Linked DNA regions of Homo sapiens. The protein of the gene in region 2 interacts with the protein of the main gene of each other region in a pairwise test. Each region holds a gene or a part of one and is shown on either strand. Other genes may lie near its edges. The genes, in order: SLC30A5 and SLC30A6.

Region 1 (3,918 bases), on a different chromosome or scaffold from region 2:
TTAAATACTTGTTTTTCCCAAGAACGTGGACATTCTCTTATAAAACCAGCAGAGCTGTCTACTTCAGGAAATTTAAGTGATATGCTTTTTTTTGAGACAGAGTCTCGCTCTGTCACCCAGGCTGGAGTGCAGTGGTGCGATCTCGGCTCACTGCAACCTCTGCCTCCTGGGTTCAAGCCATTCTCCTGCCTCAACTTCCTGAGTGGCTGGGATTACAGGCGCATACCACGTCCAACTAATTTTTTTTTTTTTTTTGGTATTTTTAGTAGAGATGGGGTCTCACCATGTTGGCCAGGCTGGTCTCGAACCCCTGACCTCAGATGATCCACCTGCCTTGGCCTCCCAAAGTGTTGGGATTACAGGTGTGAGCCACTGCGACCGGCCTGATATGAAACTTTTATTTAATCTACTGTCCATAGTCCAGTTTTGTCAATTGACCCAGTAACATCCTTTAAAGCACTTTTCCCCTACTACCAAATCAGACCAGAATTGCCTATTGCATTTAGTTGTCATGTCTCAAGAATTAACATCTGATATGCTGTTATTTACAAAATGAGATGCTCAAAATAGATTAGAAAATTAAATTTATGCTACAAAAATGCAGTTGGTTTAAGTTCTGTCCTATGTGGTGTTCTTCCCTTTTCATAACAAATGCTTATGTTGGGCGGGCGCGGTGGCTCATGCCTGTAATCCCGGCACTTTGGAAGACCGAGGCAGGCCGATCACGAGGTCGGGAGCTCAAGACCAGCCACACCAACATGGAGAAACCTCGTCTCTACTAAAAATACAAAACATTAGCCAGGCGTGGTGGAGTATGTCTATAATCCCAGCTCCTCGGGAGGCTGAGGCAGGAGAATCTTTTGAACCCGGGAAGCGGAGGTTGTCGTGAGCCGAGATCGCGCCATTGCACTCCAGCCTGGGAACAAGAGCGAAACTCCGTCTCAAAAAAAAAAAAAAAAAAAAAAGTTACGTTATAATGCTATTACTACAGTTCTAAAGAATTTATCACATTTATCACTTTCTTTAAATATCAAAGAAGTATTTATTCCAGAATGGGAAGAACTCGTTAAAAATGGAGGCAAAGAACACCAGTTCCAGCCAAATTGCAGGGCTGTATTTTGTGCATTTTCGACACTATCTCAGAACTTAGGAAGGATACACTAGAAAGTGGTCGCTGCACCTGTTGGTCCCTTACTTTTCGGGTTGGTGGGAGAATTGAAGAGAGGAAGTGGGAATTTTCACTTTTTACTCTATGAATTGCTTTGCTGTTTAGATTTTTTTTTGACAACGAGGACACATTTCTTATTTAAGAACAAAATAAAAAAAGAAAACGGGGCTGGACCCTCGATGTGCTCAGTTAATCTGAACATCCAAGTTCCCCTGAACATCCAAGTTCACGTATGTACTTTGGTTTCGTCGCCTGAAGAGAGCTGATGGTGACACCTTCCCCTAATTTATGCAGGGAAACGTCAGAAAGGTTAAGTAGTCGCCAGACTATTTCAGGGAGAAACAGCCAAGAGAAAGGCTTCTCACAGATCAGAAAAACCTCTCACGTGAACTGGCGGGCAGTTCTAAGACTGACTGTCTGCCTTGTAACCCAGAAATTCAAGCAGAAGCTTTTTGGCTTTAGCGCCTTCCTTCTGCAGCAGGCACCCGAAGAGCCCGGGGAGCCCGGAGGCAGCCTGCGCGCAGGGAGGCAGGCAGGGGGAGAGGGCGCGCCGACCCCGGGACGTCCCGGGCTGTCAGCGGAGACCGGAGGGAGGCCGGAGAAAGTGCATCCTGAGCGACCCGGCCGGTCGCTGCCTTCCGGATCGGTCCCTTACCGAGCGCTGGGTACGTCCACCGGCCCAAGGCCGCCGCCGCCGCCGGGGCCGGCCAGCACGTCCCCGCCGTATTTCTCCTCCATCCCGGGGCTCACGAGCCGCCGCCGCTGCCCCTGTCGCGGGGTCTCCTCATGTCTCGCCGCTGCCGCGGAACAGCGGGTGCAGGCGCGTCACTCCCCCATGGCAGAGACCCCGTCGGGCTCCTGCAGGCCGGGCCGCCACTGCCGCCGTCGCCGGCTCCGGCTCACTAGCACACACGCGTCGGGACTAGGCCGCGATCAGTTCCGGCGGCGCCAGGTTCCCGGGAAGCAGCGGCGGTAGGGACGTTGCCAAGCCACGTCATCAGGCCCAGCAACCCTCACTCCCGGGGGAGTGCCCAGCCTTGCGTCTGCGCAAGCAGAACACTCGCCTTTCCTCGTCCCTTAGGCTCCTCCCGCCACGTTGTGTCGCATTGAAGCTCCGCCTCCTATCAGCCTCTCCGGGTGGCGCTCCCTGTGCACTTACCTGTCCCTACAGTGCCACCTATGGGCCGTCAGAAGTACAGCGGATTCCTGTAGGGCAGAGGGGGAGGGCGTGGAAAATGTACAGCGTGTGTGATTAAACAAAGCTCACCAATCTTTTCCTCTGCGTTAGGGATTCTTTTTTTTTTTGTTTTGAGATGGAGTTTCGCTCCTGTTGCCCAGGCTGGAGTGCAATGGCGCGATCTCGGCTCACGGCAACTTCCACCTCCCAGGTTCAAGCGATTCTCCTGCCTCAGTCTCCCAAGTAGCTGGGATTACAGGCATGTGCCACCACACCTGGCTAATTTTGTATTTTTAGTAGAGACGGGGTTTCTCCATGTTGGTCAGGCTGGTCTCGAACTCCTGACCTCAGGTGATCCACCCACCTCGGCCTCCCAAAGTGCTGCGATTACAGGAGTGAGCCACCGCACTCGGCCTAGAGATTCTTAATCTAGGTTAACATACCCTCTGCCTCTAAGTTTTTGTGAGTATGGATCATTTTTGTGATGAGAAGGCCCGAAGTCTTAAAAGTTCACGTGCCCTTCCCCCAACCAGAGATAACTATTTTTGAAGCTGTAGAGAATCAATTACAAATAGTGGTACGGCCATTTCTTTTGAACAATGCCTTTGATGGACTTTGGAGAGGAGAAACTAGTATTGACCAAAATTTGCCTCCTCAGCAAACTATCCCAGGGCAATTTTCTAGGAGTGACCACGTGCGAAACTTCATGGCCTTCTCTCCTACTCCTAAGGGAACCTAAAGGCAATTTCCAGATTTCTAAAGAAACATTCTTATCCTGGGCAACATGGCAAAACCCTGTCTCTATCAAAAATACAAAAACAATTAGCCAGGCGTGGCATATGCCTGTGGTCCCAGCCACTCAGGAGGGAGAGGCGGAAGGATCGCTTGAACGTGGGAGGTCAAGGTTGCAATAAGGCATGATCATGCTACTGTGCTCCAGCCTGGGCAACAGAGCAAGACCGTCTCTGGAAAAAAAAAAAAAAAGAAAGAAAAAGAAAGGATTCTTCTTTGCCACAGGGAGCCTGGGGTCATCTATCAAATAAAGTAACGGAGGAAGGTGACTGCTTTTGTGGCTTTTTGTGTGGGGCCTGGAGTACTGGTAACCGTTGTTGCTAGAGGCCCTGGAATCCAACTGTGTGAGGACAGAACATAGGAGAAGGAAGAGGATTTTGTTAAGTGTTGCTGCAAACTGTTTTGTCTCCTTTTTGAAAAGGAAAGCGTTGATTTTCTTTAAATTCTGCCTGTGAAACTGTGTAATCCAGGCACATCTGTAAAAACAGGTCAGGTAGTGTTACCTGAAAAGGGGGTCCCCATCCAGACCCCAGGAGAGCTTGGATCTCACGCAAGAAAGAATTCGAGGCAAGTCCATACAGTAAAGTGAAAGCAAGTTTATTAAAAAAGTAAAGGAATAAAAGAATGGCTACTCCATAGGCAGAGGGCACAGTGGCTCATGCCTGTAATCCCAGCAGTTGGGAGGCTGAGGCGGGTGGATCACCTGAGGTCAGGAGTTTGAGACCAGCCTGACCAACATGGCGAAACCCTGTCTCTACTAAAAATACAAAATTAGTCGGGT
Region 2 (3,918 bases):
AGTCAGGGGTCTCACCATATTGCCCAGGCTGGTTTGAACTGGTTTCAAGCGATCCTCCCACACCCCGAGTAGCTGAAATTACAGGTGTGGAGCCACCGTGCCCAGCTGTTATTGTCTTTTTTCATAAAGGCCATTCTATGGTATGCAGTGGTATTTCATTGTGGTTTTAAGTTATTTTCCTTATGACTAATTGAGCACCTTTGCCTATGTTGATTAACCATTCAGATCACCTCTTTTTTAAAATGCTTGTAAAAATCTTTTAACCATTTCCTGTTTTTCTGTATTAATCTGTAACAGTTCTTTATATATAAGTATCTTCTCCTTCTTAGTTGCCCTTCTTTCTCTTAATGGTATCTTCTGATGAATAAAAGTTTTAAATTTTAGGCCGGGCGCGGTGGCTCACGCATGTAATCCTAGCACTTTGGGAGGGTGAGGTGGGCAGATCATTTGAGGTCAGGAGTTGGAAACCAGCCTGACCAACATGGTGAAACCCCATCTCTACTAAAAATACTAAAATTAGCCACACATGGTGGTGGGTGCCTGTAATCCCAGCTACTTGGGAGGCTGAGGCAGGAGAATCACTTGAGCCCAGGAAGCAGAGGTTGCAGTGAGCCAATATCGTGTCATTGCTCTCCAGCCTGGGCGACAGAGTGAGACTCCGTCTCAAAAAAAAAAAAAAAAGTTTTAAATTAAATTTATTTTTTTGGGTTGGTCCTTTTGTGTACTTGTTAAGAAATCTTGGCATACCCCCAGGTCAGAAAGACACTTTGTTCTGTTATCACCTAGAAGCCTTACTGTTTGATTTTTCATATTTAATCCTACAATCCAGTTGGAATAGATTTTTTTGGTATGGTGTGAAGCAGGAGTAAAGGCATATTCTGGACTGCAGTGGCGCAATTCGGCTCACTTCAACCTCCATCTCCCAGGTTCAAGCAATTCTCGTGCCTCAGCCTCCCAGGCAGCTGGGATTACAGGCCCGCACCACCACGCCCAGCTAATTTTTTGTATTTTTAGTAGAGACTGGGTTTCGCCATGTTAGCCAGGCTGGTCTTGAACTGGCCTCAAGTGATGTGCCTGCCTCGGCCTCACAAAGTGCTGGGATTGCATGTGTGAGTCACCGCGCCTGGCTCTTTACTGCTTTTATGTGCCACATTTTTCACAAATCAGTGGACTATATATGTGTAGGTCTGTTTCTAGATTCTCTTTTCTGTACAATTTGGTGTATTTGTACTTGGATTAGTACTGCACTATGTCAATTATTGCAGCTTTGAAATACCTATTGATATCTGGTAGTATAAATCTTCCAGCTTCGTTCTTCTTCAAGGTTATCTTTGCCTTCCTTCACATTTTGCAGTTCCATATGCATTTTAATATCAGCTTCTCACCTTCCACAAATAACATTGGTGCATTTGCATACTGTTTTTTCCTGTTCTTTTTTATTTTTTCAGTAGCTGGAAAACAACACTTAATTTGTATTCTATCATAACCTACTTTTTTCACTCACCTTTTTCCATGTCAATAAATACTTTTTTTGTTTAACAATATATAATGTTCTATTGTTGATTCCAGCATTTTTCCTTTACAAATAACAATGTGATGTACAGTCTTAATTTTTTTGTCTTTTCTGTGCCTCCGTGATTATTTTCTTGAAAAATTTTAAGCATTTATACTTACCATAAATATTGAATACCATTAGACCATGTGTTGCAGGAAAAACTAAAACAACAGTTCCTGGCCTCTGGCTTATAGTCTAGGGATTATAAAATATATTCATAATTCACTGTAATTATGTATAGAAATGAGAGGCAGTATAATAAGTGGTTAAAATCTGAATTCTAGTGTCAGAGTGTTTGAGTTTGAAAACCTTCTACTTGCTATCTATATGACTCTAAACAGTTACTTTTCTTCTTCGTGTCCTAAACTTCTTATCTGTTTGGGAAAAAAAAATGAGCCAAGTGTGGTGGCACATGCCTGTAGTCCCATCTACTCGGGAGGCTGAGCAGCTGGGAGGATTACTTGAGCCTGGGAGTTCAGGGTCCAGCCTGGGCAACATAGTGAGACCCCCATCTCTTGAAAAAAAGAAAAAAGTGGATAAAGTAATTCTAATAAGGGGTTGGGAGGTTTAGATGAGGTAATATGTTAAGCACTCTGGTGTCTAACGCACAGTGGGTCAATTAAGTGTTATTATTATGATTGTGATTATTTCTAGAAAATAAGGACTATAATTGGGTCCTGGTAATTGTCTTTTTTTTTTTTTTAATCATTTTAAAGTTTTTCTGGAAAGAGAAAGCCTCTGACATGGGCTGAAGGTGCTCTCTCTTCTGAGTCCTAGGAATTGTACAAATAGGTACTCCTTGGAATCTGTGATTTTCATTGTTTATTATTATTCTAGAAACCCTAATCTGCTCTAACAGTGTTGGGCTCATAGTAGACAGCACATATGTATATTAAGTGAGCAAATAAATGAATGTAAATGTGTTCTAGAGAGACTGGTTTGTGAATTGAAAGAATTGTGATGATCTAATTAATGTTTTGGTTTCAGGTTTGAAAGATTAGAAGTCCTGGCTGTATTTGCCTCCACAGTCTTGGCACAGTTGGGAGCTCTCTTTATATTAAAAGAAAGGTACATTTGTATAGGATATTATTCTAAATCCCCCCATGACACCTTTGGGAACATGAAAGAAACCCGTCAGACACATTTGCTTTCAAGGGTATGAAAACTTAGATGAGCAGGGCTGGAGTTTTGATAGTACACTTTCTTTATGTTTCAGACTTTTTCTTCTGTTTCATTTTTTTTACTTCCTTCCTTAATGCTACTAAATTGAATCAGAAGTGGTTGTGAATGAAACAGAGATTCAGTCAGGCATGTTTGATGCTTATTACAAACCCATTGAAATAGGCTTGGCAGAGAAAGATAGACATTACATATTAAGGATAATTTGTGAAAAAAGAAAACAACTAAAAAGGATAATTTATGAGTCTCCTTGCCTCATCACTGCTAATAGTTAATAGTTATAATATTAAAAGATTTTGTGAACTTTAAGGTGGGTGAATGATATATTTAATAAAGCTTTTTAACTTTATAATTTATAGGACTTATTTAATATATTTTTATTTCTTATAGTGCAGAACGCTTTTTGGAACAGCCCGAGATACACACGTGAGATTTTATTTTCAATATATAATTTACTATTGATTCTTAATTATTAATTGATGTATTATTAAACAGTTGGCCAATGTCAGATTTCAGACTGTGGCAACATAACGTTTTTGCTGGTATTTCACAAACAAAATTCCCTAATACTAAGACTCCGTTTCTTTACTCTTAACAGTTCCCAAGTTCTAAATATTTTTATACTACACAGGAAGGCCTTTCTATCTTGGCTTCAGGCTTCTCATTATTTCCAGGCCTAGGAAACACTAACCCAGCTTCCCCTAGTCTTCTGTAATTTCAAATTTGACCTTCAAAATCTTTGCATAGCACCTGTAGAAAAGAGAATTGGACGAGGCTCAGGGATTCAGTGTAATCCCAGCACTTTGGGAGGCTAAGGCAGGAGGATCGCTTGAGTTCAGGAGTTCAAGACCAACCTGGACAACAGAGTGAGACCCTGTCTCCAAAAAAAAGAAACGTATATATGTTTCATATATATTGCAACTATGTGATTTTCATATATATATGAAAAGAGAATTGTATGTATCATATATATGAAAAAACAATTGTATTTCTCAACCACAGAGCTGCCAACTATATGGACCTTATCTATTCTGATCAGTTTAATTCCACAAAGTCTGACTTGTCCAGTATATCGTAAAACAAATACCATTGATATTTATACAGATTTATAACAGCGTTTACCTGTAGCAAGATACTGTTAATGCTAAAAGTCCTTACTTATCCTTTGTAAGATGGAGCAACAG

Evidence for each region.
Region 1: the proteins of SLC30A6 (region 2) and SLC30A5 interact in binary tests that used the Homo sapiens proteins (3 or more experiments, as listed by UniProt).

What each region holds. Positions count from the first base shown.
Region 1 is NC_000005.10:69,092,244-69,096,161, reverse strand, and holds the start of SLC30A5 (proton-coupled zinc antiporter SLC30A5), read right to left. Parts: upstream 2,149-3,918; 5' UTR 1,907-2,148; coding exon 1,824-1,906; intron 1-1,823. UniProt on the Homo sapiens protein: Together with SLC30A6 forms a functional proton-coupled zinc ion antiporter mediating zinc entry into the lumen of organelles along the secretory pathway.
Region 2 is NC_000002.12:32,189,794-32,193,711, forward strand, and holds part of SLC30A6 (zinc transporter 6), read left to right. Parts: intron 1-2,542; coding exon 2,543-2,623; intron 2,624-3,124; coding exon 3,125-3,160; intron 3,161-3,918. UniProt on the Homo sapiens protein: Has probably no intrinsic transporter activity but together with SLC30A5 forms a functional zinc ion:proton antiporter heterodimer, mediating zinc entry into the lumen of organelles along the secretory pathway.